Linked DNA regions of Homo sapiens. The protein of the gene in region 1 interacts with the protein of each later gene in a biochemical or structural test. Each region holds a gene or a part of one and is shown on either strand. Other genes may lie near its edges.

The links. Proteins that work in one complex are often made in the same cells at the same time.
Region 2: the proteins of TRMT13 (region 1) and SNTG2 interact in a test that uses a peptide from one of them, tested with the Homo sapiens proteins (one large-scale study listed by IntAct).
Region 3: the proteins of TRMT13 (region 1) and LIMK2 interact in a test that uses a peptide from one of them, tested with the Homo sapiens proteins (one large-scale study listed by IntAct).
Region 4: the proteins of TRMT13 (region 1) and DLG2 interact in a test that uses a peptide from one of them, tested with the Homo sapiens proteins (one large-scale study listed by IntAct).

Annotation. Positions count from the first base shown.
Region 1 is NC_000001.11:100,139,663-100,143,162, reverse strand, and holds part of TRMT13 (tRNA:m(4)X modification enzyme TRM13 homolog), read right to left. Parts: coding exon 3,452-3,500; intron 2,982-3,451; coding exon 2,912-2,981; intron 2,756-2,911; coding exon 2,649-2,755; intron 2,312-2,648; coding exon 2,144-2,311; intron 27-2,143; coding exon 1-26. UniProt on the Homo sapiens protein: tRNA methylase which 2'-O-methylates cytidine(4) in tRNA(Pro) and tRNA(Gly)(GCC), and adenosine(4) in tRNA(His).
Region 2 is NC_000002.12:957,349-960,848, reverse strand, and holds part of SNTG2 (gamma-2-syntrophin), read right to left. Parts: intron 1-3,500. UniProt on the Homo sapiens protein: Adapter protein that binds to and probably organizes the subcellular localization of a variety of proteins. May link various receptors to the actin cytoskeleton and the dystrophin glycoprotein complex.
Region 3 is NC_000022.11:31,264,298-31,267,797, forward strand, and holds part of LIMK2 (LIM domain kinase 2), read left to right. Parts: intron 1-1,648; coding exon 1,649-1,835; intron 1,836-2,686; coding exon 2,687-2,773; intron 2,774-3,478; coding exon 3,479-3,500. UniProt on the Homo sapiens protein: Serine/threonine-protein kinase that plays an essential role in the regulation of actin filament dynamics. Acts downstream of several Rho family GTPase signal transduction pathways.
Region 4 is NC_000011.10:83,471,845-83,475,344, forward strand, and holds part of DLG2 (disks large homolog 2), read right to left. Parts: intron 934-3,500; coding exon 883-933; intron 1-882. UniProt on the Homo sapiens protein: Required for perception of chronic pain through NMDA receptor signaling. Regulates surface expression of NMDA receptors in dorsal horn neurons of the spinal cord.

The DNA.
Region 1 (3,500 bases):
TTTTTCTTTCTGTGTTTTCCATCCACCTGCACAAACAGAACATTATTGTAATAATCACTTCTTACATTTAAAAAAGCTTTATGAAAATAAAAAGATTTTTATTGGTTTTCAAAATTCAGAGCAACAGAACATATTTAAAAATTAAGATTGTACATTCTTTGATGAGAACTTCAAAATATCACACTTTTTAAAAAAGATTTGAAAATGTTTATCAATTATTACATAGACATTATTTCCTTTAACCCTAAAAATTCCCAATTCACTGACAAAGGAACTGAAGTTCACAGATCTTAAGTGATTTATCTAAGATTGTCTACTAGCTCCTTTATCTTTGTCACTCCTGGTGTACTATTTTTGGTTCGCTCCTCTTCTTGCTCTCCTGAAAGATCACAACCATTCTAATCTATACCTATGTGCCCACGACCGGCTGATCTACATTTGTGGCTCAGGCCTCTCCAATGGGCATCAGACACATACTCAATTGTGAACTAGAAAGCTCTACTTCACCAGCAAACTGGACACATTCAGAACTGAACTCATTATTTCTGTCTCCAAAACCATCCTTCCTCTTGTGCCTCCTTCATTCCTTATCTCAGGAAAGAACACCACTTAGTCACCTAAGCCATAAAAATCCTACCGAGAATTACTCCTTATCTCTCATATTCAATTACTAACAAATCACCAACTCTTGTGGCTTCCAACATCTTAATATTTCTCATACTCTTGCCCTCCTCTCCATCCCAATGCAATAGCTTTAGCTCTGGCCTCTTTCTTACTTGGATTGTTGGACAAAAATTATCTTTATTATTAATCTCTCTAAGTATCAGACTCTTCTAATATAGTTTTAATGGTGCTGCTAGGATAAACTTTGAAAAATTTCCTTCTACTTTACCAACTCTTACATATTATTTCAATCTCATCTCAACTGTCACTTCTGCAAAAACTTCTATGACCCACACTAGACTGAGGTTGGTGCTCTATCTTCATGCTCCCATAGGATTGGGTACTTACCACTATCAAAACACACTTAGCATACTGAACACAAATATTTATATGTCTACTCCACTAGACGTAAGCTTCCTCAAAGCCAAGAACTAAATCTTTTTTCTATTGTATCCCCACCAGACAGCAGCATAGTCAAACTCCTTCCTTAGCATAAAATATGAGACCTTCTATAGGCTAGCCATCCTCTCCAGTCCCATCATTGCTGAACTCTACTTTGCACCATGTACTCCCATTATACAGGAATGTTTCCATATTTTCCTGTTATTTCAGGTATTTGGTTACACTGTTCTTGCTTCCTAGAATGCTTCTCAAACTCTCTAACAAACACCAATTCACCTTTCAAGATTTAGTTCAAGCATCACCTTTTCTACATAGTCATTCTCCATCTCTTCCCTGCAATAGAACTTGTCACTCCCTTCTTTGAAACCATGCTGTACTCTGTGCAGACCTTTCTCGTATTTTAACACTTCACTACAATCATTTATGTATTTGCCTGGGTCTCTTTTCTAAATATAAGTAATAAAGTGGCTGGGCACAGTGGCTCACACTTGTAATTCCAGCACTTTGGAAGGGTAAGGTGGGAGGATGGCTTAAGCTCAGGAGTTCGACACCAGCCTGGGCGACAAAGTGAGACCCTGTCTCCACAAAAAATTTTAAAAAATTACCTGGGCATGGTGGCGTGGGACTATAGTCCCAGCTACTCATGAGGCTGAAATGGGAGGATTATATGAGCCCAGGAGGTCAAGGCTGCAGTGAGCCACGATCCTGCCACTGTACTTCAGCCTGGGTGGGGCCTGGCAGTATGCTCAAAAATTGTTTAATGAATGAAGGGCAAGTGGCAAAGATAGGAGTAGAGCCCAAGACTTTTAACTCCTAGCTTGAGCTTGGCTCTTTCTATATATTTTCCTGTCTCTGCAAATAATTTTAAGAATTCAGATCAATGGACTATCAAAACTTAGATTAAAAAATTCACCTTCAGTTTGAGTTATCAATACAATTAGAACTAATAAAAAGCTACAACAAACAGATAAAGAAAATTCCTTTCCTTTCTTTTAAGAAATGTTTCTATCACTTTTTTCCTGAATACAAAAAATGAAAACAAGTTTGGTTACTAACACAGAGCAATGGTTTCACTTACCTTGAATCTTGTGGTCACCTTTTCCACTAGGATGAAGTGAACTTTTTCAGCATCTTTTAAGGCAATATCAACCCAATGAGATAATTTTCCCTTTCCCGCTCCAAACTCAACAAAGCATCTTCTTGGACCAAGTAACTTTAAATTTTCAATGTTACCTAAAATAGAAGCCTGCAAACTTCACAAGATTATTTTATAAACTAGAGTAAACACATTTGGTTCAAATGGGAAAACAGCAAGGTAATTTCTGCATAAGGCAGTATGCTTACATTGATAATTTGTATTTGACTTAAAATTTTTCTCTCTTGCCTTTAAATATTTAATATACGGTACTCAGAATCACATCCATGCCCTCAATTTTTTGTATATGTTTCTATATATTTTTGAAATGGAAATATTTGGTACCCTCAAAGGTAAACAAAATAAAATCTTATTAATAATTACATTTAAAACAGTTTTAACAAATGAACAAAGGCCATGTTTAGTAGTTACTATAGCCTAAACATACCTGCTGTTTCAGGTGCTTGGTTGCAGAATCGCCATTTTTAGGGTCATTAAGTGCATCGTGTAATGCTGGATGGGACATAATATGATCTTTAAGTGTAGAATTCAAGCCTGTGCCAAATATAAGCACAACAGCTTAAGCAGCCAAACATGTAATTGTAGGATTCTGAACAATAGTAGTAACATATTTTAAACCAGAATGGTATCAACTCATATACCACCTAATTACTCTAAAATAATTGAACTTGCAACTTTAGGCAGTCTTACCTTCACTTGCTTTTCTCAATTTCTTAATTAACTTTTCCAACTGCTCTTCAGATAGAGAAGAAATTGGAACCTATATACAAAAATAAAACTAAATAATGTAGCCAAAAATTGCTTTAAAGTAGCATAACAGAGACTGAGTAGAGGTTTACCAACTGGGCAAATCCCATGACAGCTTAGGCTCTTCTCTCTATCAAGCCTTTTCCCTAAGCTGCCATCAGAATTGTCCAACTGCTAAATTTCTACTCCGTCTTTGCTGTGCTACTTTAATTTTCCTAACTTCCTCAAGGTCAAGAACAAGTCTAGGCTCAGAAGGGTTCAAGAATCAAAGGGGATTCAGGGCCATATTGTAGCTTCTTTTGTTATGGGGCATGAGCTGGTCTGGGTCTAGGAACTAACCATCACTAACAATATTAAGTCTACAGGAAAATGCATTCTAAATTAAAAACAGACTTGAGACAAAAATTAGAACATGCCTTATTCACATCATGAAGAGAGCTTATAAATATCTTTTAAAATTAAATATTAAGTCAATGTACTTACTAATTGTTCAGGTATTTCTGTTTCATCTCTTAAGCCTGCATTAATATCT
Region 2 (3,500 bases), on another chromosome or scaffold:
ATGCCCGGGAACCCTCAGAGCTCACCGTGCTCCCATGAACAGGCATTAGGAGCACCCCCTTCAGAACCTACAGCCGTGCGTGGGAACCCTCAGAGCTCACCGTGCTCCCATGAGCAGGCAGTAGGAGCACCCCCTTCAGAACCTAGGAACCCTCAGAGCTCACCATGCTCCCATGAGCAGGCAGTAGGAGCACCCCCTTCAGAACCTACAGCCATGCCCGGGAACCCTCAGAGCTCACCGTGCTCCCATGAGCAGGCAGTAGGAGCACCCCCTTCAGAACCTATAGCCGTGCCCCGGAACCCTCAGAGCTCACCGTGCTCCCAGCTCCTCCACGAGGGCAGAGTCCTCTGTCTGCATCCAGCTGAACCCTGAGTTCCAGGGCTCACCTGGGAGACAACAGGAATCCAATCTCACCGATGAGAAAATAAGGCACACATGACCCTACCCTGAAAAGCATCGTGCACTGAAGCATTCCCAACAAAGGAGAGAACAAAGGAGAACAGGCAGCCCGAGCTCTCGGGAGAACTGTGGGGCCCAGAAGCCCAGCATTCCCCACTGTGGGATCCTACCAGGGAACAGGCCTGGCTATCAGCTGGGATTCCTAAGCAACACTGTCACCCTAGTCACAGACGCCTGAGCCAGTGCAGCAAGGACAGGTGCTGCTTTCCAGACAGAAGGGCAAAGGACCGTGTCATTAACAGAGCCCCCTCCTACGGGAACACCTGCCCGAAGCCTCTCCACTGATACAGAAGAACCTTAAGCAGGGGGATGATGGTAATTGATGGATATTTCTTAGCAAACTATGAAAATTATCATTTTATAATGAGAATTCTAAAAAGCAGGATAGAAAATTCTATCTTGAGGATGAGTTTAACTTACAGAATATACACCAGAAAAAGCCAGAAGGAAATCTATGAGCTGCTAGATAGGTATAGACCAGGTCACAGGAACTTTCCTTCCTTGTATTTTTCCATCTCATATTCACTTTCAGTACTGAGATACGGATACCATGCCACTATTCATACAAACATCAAAGGAATAAAGGAAATGTATTTACTCCAAAGAAGGGGATAGGAAGATTCAAATCACATCCCCAAAGGTTCCCTCCATCTGCACAGCGGCACCCGAGATGCAGCCTCCAGCCCCGGGTCACAAAGGCAAGGCCTGCACGATGCAATTCTGTGACACTGGTCTGCTCCGTTCACCTTCTCCATTCAGCCCAAGGCCAGTAAAGCAAAGGCCGCCCTGAGACTTTGCACAGCCCACTGCGGGAACACCACACCCCCAGGCAGCCCCCTGCACCAGGCGACCCTAGCACAGCTGAACCCTGGACCTCCCCCCGACTCCAGGCCTCCCTGACTCCCTTCCTCCTGCCAACATGGAAATTACAAATCTAAAAGCATTCTGATTCCACCCTGATTAAAACCAAAAGAATCTGTAGGTCACGACAAAATTTGATAAAGCTTTGGAAGAAAATAATTGCAATACATAAAGCTCATAGCATTTTCATAGATCTGTGCTGGTCCTCTCCTCAATTCAATAAGGAAGAGTTGCATAAAAGAATATTTACATCCCAGCGCTTACAAAGCACGTAATTCACATATGCAGCTGTTTCCTAGTGGGTTTGTATCTTGTTCTGATAGGAAAGCTTTCAGTTTACTTCCTTTTTTCAGCTACTAGATTTTCCTCTTTATTCGATTACTAAATTTACAATATTATTCAACATAGAAATGAATTTTTTAAATATAATTAAACCTTATATAAGTGTTATACATTACAAAATATATTACAATTTGTTCTATTTCATTTTGTTGCTACAAAGAACAAATGTATTTTATATACAGAGAAAAAGTGGTCTTATCTGTGTGTGAGTCCTTATCCTTTATTACCTTTTGTTATTAGCAGTTTCAGAGTTTGGTTCTAATTTCTTAACTCTTACCCAAGCATCATTGTTTTAGATATCGTACTATCCCAAAATTTTGACTGTCATAAGGCATGTTTGATACTATAACTCCTAACATCAAAATATTAAACTATGTAAGAAATAGTACATTTTACTGTACTACATCTAGAAAGCTAAAATAGAAAATAATTTGGAAGTCCACACAATTTTTTTCATATCTCTCTGGATTTCAAATGAACCACTTTAAAAAAAAAGACCATTTATTTAGATTATAATGTATTTTGGTTACAAATTCATGTTCTCAATACCTTTCAAATTCTTAACCCCAATTTAGATAATGGTGACTTTAGAGGTTTTCTTTTTTTTCCTTTTTAAAGCAATTACAGTGTAGGTAATTGACAAAGCTTCTGCTAGTTCAGCTTCAATAAAATGTCATATCTTTGCAGAGTCTTTTTATGAAAAATCCATCTTGAAGCACCAAATCTGGAGAATATCACATAGTACTCTGCATGATCTCAACATCATTTCACTGCTATGTGTGTGGGGAGGGGCTGCATGAGCTGTTGCCATCTACTCGACTTATGAACCTGTTCCCATTTTGTATGACAACCTCAGTTATAAGAAAACAGTTGTATATTCCTCCTGATTCTGATTTCCTAATTCCTGTTGTTATCCTTTTGTCTCACAAGCAATAACCACTTAAAGGAAACGCATTTGGGGCCATTTCTCAGCCTTTGCACGTGGGATAGAGACATCTCTCTCACAGTCAGACGCCCAGGGGCTGCAGCCACCATGCGGACCACACCTCACCTGCCGTCTCTACAGTCTTATGTGTAGGTGGGGAGCATCAGCAGTACCCCAGGGGTGTTAAAGGAACGAAGCCCTCCAAAGAGCTCTTAGTACCTAGTAGATGTTAGCAATTAGGTAAGTTCTAACCTGGGGGTTCTGGGCTCAAATTCCCTACATTTCTAAGAAGATATTCCCTAAAAGCTATATTACTTACCTAAAAAGACTGATTAGCTTCCCACGGCTGCTATGACAACACTTCCTCAAACTTAGTGGCTTAAAACAATGCACATTTATCTTCTCACAGTTCTGGAAGCCAGAAGTCCAGGATCAAATTCCTCCAGAGGCTCCAGGGAGCCTCCTTCCTGCCTCCTCTAGCTCTGGTGGCTGCAGGTGCCCCTGGCCTGTGACTGCATCTCTCCCGTCTCAGTCTCAGTCTCAGTCTCAGTACCAGTCTCGCCTTCCATGTGCCGGAAGACAAATGTTGCCCGACCTCATCTATAGAAGAGGGAACACATTGTAGCTGCCCTGTGCTGTTTCGTGTCTGCTTGTCTAGAATTTGCCTCTCAGGTAGTCAGGGCCCCACTGGCCTGGTCTGAGAGGTGTTCTACTCTATTTTTATCTTTAGCTTCCAGCTCAGTGTGTGGCAATTAATAGGTACTCAATCATTCTTCTCTAAATTCTGTGTGTCTGTGTCTGCACGTACGTAAGGTGCATCATGATAAAGCAATTCTCCAAATGGCACTTAATCATCGCCAAACCCCCAACTTTCAAAAGGAGGCCTGAGACCCAGAGCTACTTCCCACCACCG
Region 3 (3,500 bases), on another chromosome or scaffold:
GAGGCAGAGCAAAAGGACAAGGGTAAGTAAACCTGTAGGTCGGGACAAGCCAAGAGCCATCCAGCGTCAGTCCTCTCTGGGTAGCCCAAGTAAAGCAGGAGCATACCCCAGAGAGAAAGTTCGCAGGGCTGTTCACCTGCAGTGCTGTGGACTTCAACCTTCTTGTTCCTTCTTCAGTAAGTGAAAATAACAGTCATTGACCATGACTATTATCGACCGCTTTTGAAAATGTAAACATAGTGACTTTATTGCTGTAAAAATCATACGTGTTTATCATCTTAAAATTCAGGAAACATGGACAGGTACAAAGATGTGCAAAATATCATCCAAAATCCCATTTGCTGGCCAGGCACGGTGGCTCACGCCTGTAATCCCAGCACATTGGGAGGCCGAGGCGGGCAAATCACTTGAGGTCAGGAGTTTGAGACCAGCCTGGCCAACATGGTGAAACCCTATCTCTACTAAAAATACAATAATTAGGCTGGGCGCAGTGGCTCACGCCTATAATCCCAGCACTTTGGGAGGCCGAGGTGGGCGAATCACAAGGTCAGGAGTTTGAGACTAGCCTGGCCAATATGGTGAAACCCCATCTCTACTAAAAATACAAAAATTAGGGCCGGGTGTGGTGGCTCACGCCTGTAATCCCAGCACTTAGGGAGGCCGAGACAGATGGATCGCGAGATCAGGAGTTCGAGACCAACCTAGCCAACATGGTGAAACCCCATCTCTACTAAAAAAATACAAAAATTATTCGGTTGTGGTGGCACACGCCTGTAATCCCAGCTACTTGGGAGGCTGAGGCAGGAGAATCTCTTGAACCTGGGAGGCAGAGGTTGCAGTGAGTGGAGATCCCGCCGTTGCACTCCAGCCTGGGCGACAGAGTGAGACTCCATCAAAAAAAAAAAAAAAAAAAAAAAAATTAGCCGGGCGTGGTGGCGTGCACCTATACTCCCAGCTACTTGGGAGGCTGAGGCAGGAGAATCGCTTGAACCTGGAAGGCGGAGGTCGCAGTGAGCCGAGATCGTGCCATTGCACTTCAGCCTGGGCGACAGAGCGAGACTCTGTCTCAAAAATAATAATAATAACAATAACTAGCCGGGCCTGGTGGCACATGCCTGTAGTCCCAGTTACTCAGGAGGCGGAGGCATGAGACTCAGGTGAACTAGGGAGACAGAGGTTGCAGTGAGCCAAGATCACACCACTGCACTCCAGCCTGGTTGACAGAGCGAGACTCTGTCTCAAAAAAAAAAAATCCCATTTGCTCATTTTTTGGATACTAGTATAACTATCACTCTAAACCAGTTAGTACTTAAATCAAGCAGATATGGGAGATGGTGAATTACCATCTACAGTGTTGTCATATATGTCACATACTGAGCATTATCAGCTAGTAGAATCTAGTTAATTGTTCTATGTGTGATGTATGCAGAGTTCCCATTTTGAATGTGTTTTTACTATGCTTAAATAAATGACTGATGTCAGCAACCCCAAAATGATACATCTGATGTAAGAGCCCCTGTTCCCCAATAATAACATCTAAACTATAGACATTGGAATGAACAGGTGCCCCTAAGTTTCCTCCCTCCAGGGTTTCTTGGCCGGTCTCTGAGGACTACACATCCCTACTCCCGTCTTTCCTCATCTTCAGGCGCAGTAACAGTATCTCCAAGTCCCCTGGCCCCAGCTCCCCAAAGGAGCCCCTGCTGTTCAGCCGTGACATCAGCCGCTCAGAATCCCTTCGTTGTTCCAGCAGCTATTCACAGCAGATCTTCCGGCCCTGTGACCTAATCCATGGGGAGGTCCTGGGGAAGGGCTTCTTTGGGCAGGCTATCAAGGTGAGCGCAGGCAACAATTGCTTTGCTCTTCTGCCCCCAGTCCCTCTGTCACTGTCTTTCGGGGATTTCTCATCACTTGGCCCCACCCCACACCATGCAGGATGCCAGGCCTCCTTCCTGGCTTTGGGTGTTGGTGTGAGAGGTATCCTTCACCCCCACCCAGGCCACCTAAGGTCAATGTTGCTGTTACAGTGAGCTTGTGGACCTGGAGATCCAGGTTGGGTTGAGCTGTGCCTGTGGCCCTCCTGCCTCCAGTCAGTGGGTGTTTGTTAGGTGCCTGCAGACCTCAGTACCGGGCATGCTACAAGGAGCACACAGGGGAATGGCTCCTGCCTCCCTGGTGAACAGTCTCAGGGACTAACCTCTCTCTTTCTCTCCTCCTCCTCCTCTTCTGCTGAGAACTGGGAGGGGGGGTCAGGTAAGACGTGTGTCTCAGCTTGGGGGCAGCAGGGCTGGAGAGCTCACCCCCGATCCACCCAGCTCCCTGGTGCATGTCTTTGGCACTGACCTTCCTGCCCCCAGACTTCTGTTCACTCAGGAGACTCACTTCTATGCCAAATGACCAGAGCCCCTGCTTGGCTTGGCAGCATCCCCTCCTGCCTTCTTCCCCACTTCCCTTTTCTGGGTTCTTGCCTGTCCTCTGTGCATGCCCAGCTCTCCAGGAAAGAGGGTTTGCTTCCGTGTGAGTCCCATGTTGCTCCACGCTGCATCTTCCACACATGAACTCTGTCATTCTGACCCGGCTCAGTGTGCCCTCCAAGGGATGGGATGGCCAGCTGCATAGATTTTCTCAAACAGTTCTCCAGAACTTCCTCTGGTCTCAGCACCATTAACAGTCACCCTCCCTGTAGGTGACACACAAAGCCACGGGCAAAGTGATGGTCATGAAAGAGTTAATTCGATGTGATGAGGAGACCCAGAAAACTTTTCTGACTGAGGTAAGAAGATGGAGGGGGCCCGGGAGGTTGGTGTCACCATTGGAAGAGAGAAGACCTTACAAATAATGGCTTCAAGAGAAAATACAGTTTGGAATTACTGTCTTAAAGACTAAGCAGAAAAGAGCCCTAGAGGAATATCCCACTCCCTCTAAATTACAGCGTAATTATTTGTTCAATGAACACTTACTAAAAGCAACACAAACAGGGTACAAGGGATGCAGTAACAAAAGATACAGGGTTCAGAAGAGCTCTCAGGTTATGAGGATGATGGACATGAAAACACTCCAATTTAGTACAACTCAATGTTATAATCCTCACCTGAACGCCCTGCTAAGGGAGCCTGGAGGGGAGCTCCCTGAGCACTCACACTCCTTGGGCATTTACAGTTTTCACTACCCCTCCCAAGTTACTTCATGGAGTAACTTAAGTTGGGGACACCTGTGGTCTGGGTATTGCCCTCCAAGCCACTTGGCCACTCCCACCCCAGTTCTCCCAATGCAGTTCCAAGGGTAAGGCCTATGAAGCCATCTCCATCTATATGGTGGTGGTCTTCCCTCATCCTGATCTTAGTGCCCTGTCATATCACAAGATAGGAGGTAGGAGATACAGGTGGTAACACTTGTCAAGCTGATTCCTTGGAGGGAAGAGGTAAGGAAGACAGTGAGAAGTTAACCACCAGCTTTCCTTGGCTTCCCCCACCCCCAGGTGAAAGTGATGCGCAGCCTGG
Region 4 (3,500 bases), on another chromosome or scaffold:
CACTGGATAAATTACTCATACAGCCTTGCATAGGGAAATTGATGTTTAACACTCAGGAGATTGGCAGTGCCTACTTTCTGGAATCTACTAGCAGGGAAAGGCAATTGCAGTATCTGTTGATGAAAAGAAACATTTGGAGGAGTTTTGCTTACTCTCTGGCTCTGCCTACATAATGTCAAAACAACTGAATTTAGTCAACTGAGTGGGAGAAAAAAGAATCCAAACCAGCTGTTTGGCTATTGTTTAGATATGACTATAAAAAGTAATTGTTAGTAGTAATAACATCTTATGTTTTCATGATTTCTTTTCCCCAGATCAAAATACTCTCTATACTTTGCTACAGTTTCTAGATTTCCTTGTATCTGGGATTAGAAGGAACCTGAGAGTTCATTGGGTACAAGTCCCCATCTGATGCTTGAATTCTCTCTGCAGTATCCTTGTCAGTAGCAATTAGCCTCTGTATAAATGCCTCCAGGAAAAAGCAGCAGCTTACAGATAGCCTACATCTTAGGCAGATCTGCTAGAAAGTCATTCTCAATACTGAGCTGACATCAGTCTCTCAGGAGAATTTATTCACCAGTCTCGTAGCTAGTGCTCTTTAGGTAATTTGAATGTGTTCCTTCCCATTGAGGACCACTCATCTGGAGGGCTGCATCCTTCTCTTAGGTGCTATTAGTGCCCATACTCAGCAGGAAGTTGTCTGTTTGGTGATAGGGTCAAAGAGAGAGAAAGTGAGAGACAGCGTAAGAGTAAGGTACGGTCTCAAGACAACAGAGCATTAAGCCGAGTTTATTCTCCTTAGTCCTTCACTCTTTCCCTCCTTCAATGATGTCACCTCTTATGGCCCAGAAATTAGGAATGAAAGCGTGCTGGGAAACTTACTTTCCTGCCTTGTAACAGGCTCATAGGAAAGAATGAGGTCTTCTTGTCCTCCTGAGAAGAGAAGGAAAGAAAACCACAGTGAACTAACAGTCATATATTACAGAGACAAGCCCTGCTCTGAAACACAGGAAACAGACACAGCTCAGAGTTAATTCTCCTTGCTCTTTCTCCTTGAACCATTCAAAAATAACTTCATCCTCATAAAACTCTTTAGCACCATTTTAGTATCAGATTTTCACAGTCATAACTCTAAGTAATAACTGGTTGCTAGCTATTTGCTGCAGGGCAATGACCTGTGAGACTTCTTTCTGTCTGGCATTGAGAATGGAATGCCATGGCCTCTACACCAAGCATTACTACTTAAAAGGAAGCCATTTAGTTCAAGGAAAGGGTCCAATTCAATAGATGGCTGCTACATAATCAGAATTGCTGTACCTTTTATTTCATCTTCTATTTTATTTCCCCAAGAAGCACACTGTTCAAAAGCAAGTATATGCTTATTTCATTTATGATATAAAAACTTCATCAGGACACTCAGGGTTTTACTCTAATATTAATTCGTCAGGAAAATGCTGTGGGTCAATTAATGAAGATCAAAAATTGAGGTGTGTCCTACATCATTGGTTATAATTGCTGCTAAACTGTGCGTTGAAACTTCAGATAGAGAACTAAGGAAGACACAGTAGTAAAATGTCAGCCCCTCCAATGTCATCTGCTACAAGCCTTCTGACTCAGGGTGGACCTCAAGTCAACAAATAACCATAGAAAGTAAATTGGTTTTTGCCATTTATTTTTTCAATCATCTATTTTATATAATTGATGAATTAATTGGTCAGAGGATTAGCTCAATTTCACCTGCAAACCCGGAAGTGTCTGCATTTTTTTTTGCATTGACTAACCTTTGGAACAGCAATAGGTTAGGGCTGTTGAAAAGAACTTTCTGTCTACTAGAAGAAATAGTGGAGCAGAAGTGGAATATGAGGTAACTTCTGAAACCAAAGGGCAATTCACCTTTGCTGTATATCCTCACCACCCACCCCTGAAGCACATTCATAGTCTATCAATGCCAGGTTTTCCTCCTTCAACAGCCACAGCACCACAGAAAGAGAGGTAATTTCATAAGAAGAGTTAATATGATCGACTGTTTTGATAATGAGACTGATTTGGGGAAATTGAGCAATATGTGGGTATAGCTGCGAAGTTGGATGACTTCCTTGGAGGCTGGGTAGCTGGAATGGGATGGGGATAGGAGTGTCTTACTTTTTCAAGTGTGAGAAATGGCCTCAGGCTGAAGTCATATCTTATCTCAGTCCCAAGGAGGGCCTGGGCTCAGAATGGCGCCACCATGCCAAGCTACTTCTTAAGGGTACAGAGAGTGGACCTTGATGCTCCTCCTAAGTGGTATGTACCCATGGCCACCCCAGAAGTGTTCAGGGGACTCTGCCACATTGGTCAGGGGTTTGGTCAGTGAGGAGTCAGATTCACTATTTCTTGTACTCAGGAAAAGAATGATTCCCTTTGAATAAACTACTGAAATGTACAGAGCCTAGGCCAAAAAACATGAAGGTGATTGATTACTAACCCCCAGTTATCTAAAGCCTGAGCGATGTAGAGGGTATACGCATTCAAGGTTTTAGTTTAGTATTACTTCATCAGGAAAATGCTGTGGGTCAATTAAAGAAGTGTAAAAATTCTTGGGGAGAAAGTATAGTTTTAATGATAGAAGCATCGTAGACTAACATTGCAATTTTAGACTATAACTTTACAGGGGAAATCTTCAACAATTAATGTGCAAGGGAAGAATTCTGACCATGGGATAACAAAAGCTTTAAATGTCAGGTAACTCTTGGACCTCCTTATTAGGCTGGGAGTTTCATAAAGGCGAGAACTGAGTTTTATTCATCACCATGTCTCCAGTGCCCCATTGAGTGCTTAACATAAAGAAAGATGTCAACAAATTTGCATTCTGATTTCAGTCATGGGAAACAGGATGAGTGATGAGGCCAACGGTAGGTTCTATTTTGTGTTTCTGTCAATATGGTCATTTAACTTTGGAAAGCATCGTTTTCTCTAAATAAATAGAGCACATCAAGTTCCCATAAAAATCTCTTCCCAATGGCTTTGCAAATCATTCTGATGGAACGTTCTAAAGGCAAATCTTTAATAAGATATTTGATGTCAGTGTGTATGATTGCGATTCAGACAACTAGGGCAAAGCATAGCTTTGATTAATTTTGTTCAAGAGTTCTCTATCTCTGTCTATCCATCACTTCTTGGTTTACTTTTCTATGAAAGGCACTGGTTCTGGTTCTGGTTCAGAGCAGTAGTGTTGGTAGACAGCAATGGCAGCATCCCTTATGTCCGGGCCACCCCAATTCTCAAGACCTTGTGGCAATCAGGTACTGTGTAATACCCAGGAAGCCTGTGGGGAAACCCGTGGAGGTGGGCATGACATAATTGCTGTGAATTCAGCATCTTAAACTAATTTTTACTTCCATGTCCAAGAATGAAAAGCCCTATGGGTAATGAGGAAGAGACAAAGGGAAAGAGAAAAAGCCACTGTGATGAAGGAGAGAAAATTCATGTCTTTGTGGCACTTTGCGGGCCTTGAGGGGCTT